2 separate regions of the Homo sapiens genome follow, and region 2 is linked to region 1. The links come from fine-mapping of genetic effects on gene expression. A gene starts in region 1. The other region holds a variant in brackets. All regions are shown on one strand. Distances are from middle to middle.

Region 1 (4,528 bases):
AGCAAATAACCAAAATTTCTGGGGGTGGGACCCAAGCACCAGTATTTTCAAAGCTGCCCAGGGGTTTCAGCCAAGGCTGACAACTGCCGGGTCAGCAGCACTGTGGGCAGCCTAGGAATTCTGCATTTAACAAGCTCCTGGCAAATACTTGGGCATGTGAGTGTTTGAGAATCACAGACCTAGTACCCTCAGCATCTGTGGGCACCCTGGTTCATGGTCTTTTCTGGAAAACTCCATTCTAGGTAATTTCCCAAAAGCCTCTAACTACAGTGGCCATGGATGACCTCATTTGAGGGGAAATCTACTCTTGTTTACACTCTGTCAGCCAAGGAGATGATCTTTCCCCAGATAAAACTGAAATGCAGGCCAGGCATAGTGGCTCACGCCTGTAATCCCAGCACTTTGGGAGGCTGAGGCAGGTGGATCACCTGAGGTCAGGAGTTCAAGGCCAGCCTGACCAACATGGTGAAACCCCATCTCTACAAAAATTAGCCAGGTGTGGTGGCGCACGCCTGTAGTCCCAGCTACTCAGGAGGCTGAGACAGGAGAATTGCTTGAACCCAGGAGGCAGAGGTTGCAGTGAGCTGAGATCACACCATTGCACTCCAGCCTGGGCAATAGAGCGAGACTCTGTAAGTGCCTCTATTGGTGTCTTGCAATACAATGTCTCAAAAACAAAAAACAAACAAAAAAACTGCAATGCAATTCATACTCTGGTTGTTGTAACATGGACAATTACAGAATCATCATTTCCATTTTTCATCTTGCTGACTACCTGTGGTTCCATTAAGAATCAAGAATTCTTTTTTTTTTTTTTTTTTTTTTTGAGATGGAGTCTCGCTCTGTTGCCCAGGATGGAGTGGAGTGGCTCGATCTCGGCTCACTGCAACCTCCGCCTCCCAGGTTCAAGCAATTCTTTTGCCTCAGCCTCCTGAGTAGCTGTAACAACAGGCGTGTGCCACCACACCCAGCTAATTTTTCTATTTTTAGTAGAGAAGAGGTTTCACCATATTGGCCAGGCTGGTCTCAAACTCCGGACCTCATGATACGCCCGCCTTGGCCTCCCAAAGTGCTGGGATTACAGGTGTGAGCCACCAAGCCTGGCCAAGAATCAAGAATTCTTTAAGAAGAGACAGTCTTTGAATGGGAAGCTGGCCTCCAGCCACAAATGCTACTTACTACAAAAACCCACGAGGTTACTTATTTGAAAGCCTCAGACAATGCCTGTGGAAAGAGGAAGAAAAGCCACATTCACAAGGATAAATAGGGCAGAGTAGAAGCCCTATCCACTGGTTCTCAATGTTGAAGGCTCATTAGATTCATCCACGCTAAAAAAAAAAAACAAAAAACCAACCCACCAGCACTCCACCCACAAAGATTCTGATTAAACTGGTTTGGGTTTGTGCCTGAATACTGGGATTTTCTTTTCTTTTTAAATTTTTATAAAGGGGAAAGTGGCCTGGTATGGTGGCTCGCTCCTGTAATCCCAGCACTTTGGGAGGCCAAGGCAGTAGAATCACTTGAGCCCAGGCGTTCGAGACTAGCCTGGGTAACATAGTGAGACTCTATCTCTACAAAAAAATTTTAAAAATTAGCCAGGTGTGGTAGCACGTGCCTGTGGTCTCAGCTACTCGGGAGGCTGAGGTGGGATGATCATTTGAACCCAGGAGGTTAAGGCTGCAGTGACCCATGTTCATGCTGCTGCACTTCAGCCTAGGAAACAGTGAGACCTTGTCTTAAAAAAGCCAATACACCACTAGGGTCAGTAAGGTGAGTGGAATCCTGGGGTCCTCCAAACTTCCCTGGCCTTCTCCCCACTTTCCTCTTTATTTTTGTTTTGTTTTTTGCCATATATTGGCATTTTTAAAAAGAGCCCAGGCCGTGTGCAGTGGCTCACACCTGTAATCCCAGCACTTTGAGAGGCTGAGGCAGGCGGATCACCTGAGGTCAGGAGTTCAAGACCAGCCTGGCCAACATAGTGAAGCCCCACCTCTACTAAAGATAAAAAAAAAATTAGCCAGGCATGGTGGCACTCGCCTGTAATCCCAGCTACTCAGGAGGCTGAGGCAGGAGAATCGCTTGAACCCTGGAGGCAGAGGTTGCAGTGAGCTGAGATTGCGCCACTGCGCTCCAGCCTGGGCAAGAGAGAGACTCCGTCTCTAAATAAATAAATAAATAAATAAATAAATAAATATTTTTTAAAAGAGCCCAGGCGATTCTATAGTAACACACAAACAAGGCTGCAAATCCTGGACTGGCCGCTTCACATCCCTTTCTTAGCACAGGTGCCTTCTCTTCCTAGTTAGTGCTATTTGCATGAAGCATTTCCAGGTGACTTTCAACTTCCCTATATTCAAACGTCCTGCCATCCGCTCTTTTGCATAATAAAAGTACATATGCCACACTGAGTATTGTTCTGTGTAAAGCTGATGGTGCTGTTCACATCAGAAATTGCAGCACTGAAGAACAGAGTTCATGCAGACTTTTACAACATGCATCAGCTACAGTGAGTATTCTTGCATGCTTTTGGCCAATGCAAGCTCTCATGGCACGCTGTACTGTAAGCTCCGGGTCGGTGTGCACTTCTGTTTTGTTCCTGCATTTCAAGCCATGCGAATTGACATGTTTTCTTCCCCAAGGCATTTGTTTGTTGATGGTACCAGCTGTCAAAAACCAAGCAAGTGGCAGTGCTAGAGGTGCCACAAAAGTGCGAAGGAAGTGTCAGGCTGGATGTCAAAATGAACACCTTGGAGAACTGGATGATGGAACAGACGGTAAAAATCAGCTAAACATCAGAGAAAATGGAGGAAGAGGTCAAAACTGTGAACAGGAACTAGAAGAAAGTGTAGCAGAAAAAGACTTGTCACAAACTTCGAGAGATTTGGAGAAAATGATGTCAAAACACATCTTCCTCAAGCCCATGCTGAGTATCTCTGATTTGGTTAATTTCTTGGTAAGTGTTCCAAGTACAGACAACAAAGCAGAAAAGCACTGATTACAGGGAAGAATTAAAGAATGTACAGAATTTCTGGGACGGATAGGGAAACAGGTGGGTGGCTAATAGCCAGGAACAATGTAGTTAAGAGTGCTGAGTTTCCGCAGCAGGTGCTTGCCCACACCTGTGACATTAGGAACCGGGCAGTGGAGCCTCCCTCAGAGCTACCCCAATCAGATCTCCCAGCAAGCTCTACCCCATACGGCCCATGCCCACCTTCCCAGCTGCAGCTTCTGAGTTTCACACAGGTGCTCTGCTTGGCAGACCTGCAAGGAAGTCTGAAAAAGCAGTTTGTGGTTTTCCGTCTGTGCAGCTCAGGAAGGTACACCTGATGGGAGTTAGCTGGGCTTTGGCTAGCCAACCTGCAGGGTCTGGAACTGCTTCTGTTTGCAGGACGCATCCCCCTATTCCAGACAAGCTCTGGATTCCCCTAAGTGCCTATTACATGACAAAGGCAGGCTTTGTGAATGAGCGAATACATCAAACCCTCTCATAGTGCTGCTGCCTACCAGCCAGTGGGTCTGTTTCTGTGCTGCCACCAACTTTGTTGAGCAATATTTGTCTTACAGCTATTTTGAGTATTTTATTGCACTGCCTTTGTTCTTTTATTCCACCCCTCTTCCTCTCTCTCTAAGTGAAAGAAGTGAAGTAACGATATTTGTGATAAGAAGTGTAGTCTCATACATTTTATGAAACTGAAACAATTAAAATTACCAGTAGTATCCGAAGCAGCCTATCTATATCCTCAATGAGACCTCAGTGGGAAAAAAGATCTACTGCCTCTTCACCTGTAAATAACACGTGAAACTGCTAAGACCGTGTTATTGAAGAATGTGGCTAGTGGGCAGAGTGCCATTTGGAATTTTATAGTCGTCATTATCTTTCTGGGAGTGGAACCTCCCTTATAACGTGGAAGGCTATTTTCAACTTTTGCACTTTTTTACTTGGATGCCTTTTCCAGACTCTGTTAACGTTTGGAATTGGGTTTCACTCTACAGAGAAAGAGAAGCAGGAGGACAGGTGTAGAGGGGAGGAGAGGGAGGACCGTGGGTCGCAGATTGGGCCTATTCCCCTGCACTCACCACTTTGTCTGTCACTGCCAGCCCGCTCCCCCCTTTTCAGATACCAACACCAGGCCAGGGGTGACAGCCCAGGAAGGTGGCATCCACAGCCCTCAGCCCTCTGTCCTTGTCATTCACTCCTACCAGTCCTCAGCCCTCTTATCTGTCTGGGAGTGAGATGAAGGGCAGCTGGAAGCGGGAGGAAAGGTCCTCTCCTCTCCACTACAGTGACAAGAGGTTTGGAGGAGCTTCTGGGTGAGGCTTAGGGGGTGACCCTCCTGTGCAGAGCGGCATGGGCTACAAAAGAGTGGATGTTTGTCCTGTGTGTGGGTCCCTCCTGGGGGCTAAAATGAAATCTCCTTTCATTTTCTGATATCATGTGATCTCTGACTTACAAACCTACTTTCCTGTGCCATTTCTGTCTAAGACAACAGTCGCTTCTAACAGAGCCAGAGTCCTACATTACTGAGGA
Region 2 (4,000 bases), 33 kb before region 1:
AGGGGGTACCAAGATCTGAAGGGTCACATCCCTGTTAACTGGCTCTGTTACAATAAATACTAGCGATAATAAATATTTATCAGGTGTACATACCATGCCATATCCTGTTCTGAAGAGTCTTTGAAATTTTAATAGATTTGGTAAAGAATTTTTGAACTTAAATAAAAGGAAATAATTCTGGAACAAAATATGCCCAAGCAAAAGTAAATTGTTTTACATTCTTTTCATATAGAACAGAGAAATGCATACCACCCTTGACAATAGGATCAGAAGAACAAACAGTATCAGATGTTACAGAACGTTTTTGAAGTTTTTCACTGTGTGAGCTGCATGGGTCTGCACAGCACCTCCCACAGTGGTTCTGCATTGGCCAGTTCAACCTCATTTCATACCAGTTTTTCTGTTTGTTTTAAGTAATGTATTCAAAGAGTCTTATAGCGCTGGAAAAGCTTGTTCATTCATTATCTCCTGGCTTGGACTGACTTGGGCCTCTAGATTTAGTAGTGTATCTTAGAGGTTTCACACGTTTTTAATTTTGACCTACCATAAAAAGTACATTTTACATTATGGCATCCACACTATACCCGCCCCCCAACTCCCACATACTCAAACCAAAACACAGGTTCCACCAAACAATATTTTAAGTGTGATATATACTGATATTTTTGTCTAATGTATTTCATCTTTTATAAAATACTGGTTAAAGCCAATACACTGATTTAATGGTCTACTGATATTTGAGAAACTTTGGCCTAATACATATGTAATTCAAGTAGATCTCTCAGGATCAAACAACAGAAAAAGGAAATATTTGCAAACTTGAATAAGATGAGGAGCTCAGTGCTTAGAAGCATCCTAACACCCAGTGAAAGTGGGTGATGTGCAGAGGCGAACACAGGATGACCATTTGGTCCTCCTGACTTCTGGACTCTGGATTTCAGTACTCTACATCTGGGCTGTCCAATACAATAGACACTAGCCACATGTAGCTATTTAAAATTACTTCAAATGTAAATAAAACTTAAAAATCAGTTCCTTGGTGGCACTAGCTACATTTCAAGTGCTCTATAGTCCAACATGGCAGCACAAATGCAGGCATTTCAGTTGGACAGTGCTGGCCTAGATGGAGCAGAAATGGGAGATGCTCAGTGACTGGGCATTGGTGTCTCTATGTGCTAAATGAGGGGATAGAACTGGATCACCTCTAAAATCCCTTCCAGCTCACTGTCTCTGATTTCAAAAGCCCATGAAGCTACTGTGTGAACATGAGGAGTTGGGAAAAATGCCTGAAGACAGAGCTCTGGGAAGCAAAACTGTTTGCCAGAGAGGCAGCTGATCCCGGATTAGAAGAGAGCTCAGGAGTAAGAACCAGAGTTTACCGCAGCATCTGTGTCTGAAAGCCAAAGGAGAGAGGGAAAGTAGAGGACAGAGAAACATGTTGCTTTATTCTGGCAGCCTCATCTCCTTGCCCTTGGTGACAGCAGGAGGGCACTGCTCCTGCTCTTGGTCTGTGGCAAGCAGAGGATGAAAGCAAAGGAGGATGCTTTCTATGGTGCTTCAGCTCACTGCCACCAGGAGAGCCCTTCCCAGAGATTGTTATCTGAGAAATGAGCTGTATAATCTAAAAAAAAGTTCAGCCCTCCCATTGAATGTACGTATTTTTTAGTTGGAAAATCTCTAACAGTTATTACCATACTTTTTTATATAAGTTTTTAAACAATTTCAAGGTAGGATTTATATACAATAAATGCACCCACTTTAAAGGTCCAGTTCAATGAGTTCTGACAAATGGATAACTCATGTGACCACCACCACAATCAAGATACTGAACTTTTCCATCACCTATGACTCTTCTCAGCAATCCCCATTCTCCACCCCTGGCCTCAGGCAGCTGACCTGCTTTTTATCACTATAAATTAGTTTGGCTTTTTCTAGAGTTTCATATCAACAGAATCATTCAGTATGCACTCTCCTTTGTCAGTCTTGTTTTGCTCAGCACAGTGTTGCTGAGATTATCCATGTTGTTGCGTATATCACTTGGCTCCTTTTTATTGCCAAGTGGTATTCCGTTGTATGGAGTTTTCATAATCTTTGTATCCCTTCATCTGTTGATGGACATTTGGGTTTTGGACTATTATGAATAACGCTGTTATGCATACAGTTCCTTTTTGCAGGCATATATTTTTATATTTCTTGGGTAAATATCTAGGAGTGGGCCGGGCGTGGTGGCTCATGCCTGTAATCCTAGCACTTTGGGAGGCCAAGGTGGGCAGATCACTTGAGGTCAGGAGTTTGAGACCAGCCTGGCCAACATGGTGAAACCCTGTCTGCATTAAAAATACAAATTG[G/GC]CAGGCGCAGTGGCTCACGCCTGTAATCCTAGCACTTTGGGAGGCTGAGGGGGGCAGATCACGAGGTCAGGAGATTGAGATCATCCTGGCTAACATGGTGAAACCCCGTCTCTACTAAAAATACAAAAACAAAATTAGCCAGGTGTGGTGGCGGGCGCCTGTAGTCCCAGCTACTCGGGAGACTGAGGCAGGACAATGGTGTGAACCTCGGAGGCGGAGCTTTCAGTGAGCCGAGATCACGCCACTGCCCTCCAGCCTGGGAGACAGAGCGAGACTCCGTCTCAGAAAAATAAATAAATAAATAAATAAATAAATAAATTAGCCGGGCGTGGTGGTGCACACCTGTAGTCCCAACTATTCGGGAAGCTGAGGCAGGAGAATCTTTTGAACCCAGAGGCGGAGGCTGCAGTGAGCCGAGATCTGCCACTGCACTCCAGCCTGGGCAACAAAGTGAGACTCTGTCTCCAAAAAAAAAAAAAAAAATCTAGGAATGGAATTGGTGAGTCCTATGGTAAGTGTATGTTTAACTTTATCAGAAACTGTCAAAACACATCACATTTTTCTTAGGAACTTGATTTTTGGGGGGCAGAAGTTGCTCTTTTGCTTCTGGACCCCTCTGTTCCCATTGGATTTTGCAGACTAGATATTGTAGACAGTCTGAAAACAGGTCGGTGTGCCAGTGGCTGTTAGGTGTAGAAGTTCTGGGTTAAGGACAGGGCCTGTTCTGGGTGAGATGTTACTGGGTTATTGCTTGTATGAAAAGATTGGGCAGGACAGATAGACAGAATTAAACAAATAGTGTTGTGCTCTTTAGAAGAGAATGCATTCAAGGCTGTGGGAAAGGCTGTGCTTGTACCAATTGAGGAAACAGCTAATCCCTGAAGGATGTGAGGTATTTGCCGGGGGAAATTGTTTCCCATGAGGAAAGTGGAGGTCTTCTAACCCAACTCTTTTCTGAACTTCCCGGTCCTCATGGAAAGAGAAACTTAGAGCAGCTCAGTCTGTCAACAACTGAGGATTGTTGTGTGGTGGATACAGAACAGAGAGACTTTGGCACAGGGCCCCTTGCTGCTTCTGACTAGGGCAGAAAATGGAAATGAAATGCCAAAGGTAGTCCCCAAGACTAAAATATGTAAGAAAGTTGCTTTGTAATGGAAATAATAACAAATGTAAGTTGTTATTCATCTATACTCCGAAAACTAGCCAATATAAGTTGCTAGTCTGTTTCTACTTTTTAAAAAGTAAATATAGCTGTGATAAGAATCAAACTTCTGGTCACAGTTTTGCAACAATTTAATTCAGCTAAAGATTAATTTTTTCTGCTTAAATGCAGACATGTACTCTGGTATTCTCTAAATATGCTAAAAGCAACTCAGGTTCTATGGACAAGTTTGGGAAATGCTGTGTTGCAGGCTGTGTATGCTGGCCGTCCTGTGAGAGCACCCTAAGTGTTCTAATGCATTGATTTTTGCATCTTATTAACTTTGTTGGCTGATACATTGCTGCATAACAAACTACTACACATTTAACAGCTTAAACAGCTTAAAATCTCACATATTTACTATCCTACAGTCTCTCTGGGGTCAGGAATCTTGGGACAGTTTAGTTAGGTCCTCTGCTTCAGAGTCTCTTACAAGGCTGCAATCGGAGGT

Which allele goes with the higher level. Positions count from the first base shown, and alleles are read on the strand shown. Sizes are in standard deviations (SD) of each study's normalised expression.
With allele GC in place of G in region 2, the expression in skeletal muscle of the gene that starts at base 2,421 in region 1 is lower (small effect, 0.21 SD a copy in GTEx).

What was found.
Region 2: its variant is fine-mapped to the expression of LINC02576 in skeletal muscle (GTEx, PIP 0.97).

The regions. Positions count from the first base shown.
Region 1 is chr2:65,028,307-65,032,834 of GRCh38, forward strand. LINC02576 (long intergenic non-protein coding RNA 2576) reads left to right here and starts at 2,421. Exons shown (of 3, transcript NR_183398.1): 1 at 2,421-2,506; 2 at 2,640-2,953. RefSeq lists an enhancer at 2,771-3,634.
Region 2 is chr2:64,995,606-64,999,605 of GRCh38, forward strand. All of the region lies in intron 1 of SLC1A4 (solute carrier family 1 member 4), which reads left to right. Among named protein-coding and RNA genes, the nearest start is that of SLC1A4, 8.2 kb to the left of the region's middle. The variant G/GC (reference allele first, on the strand shown) is at 2,349.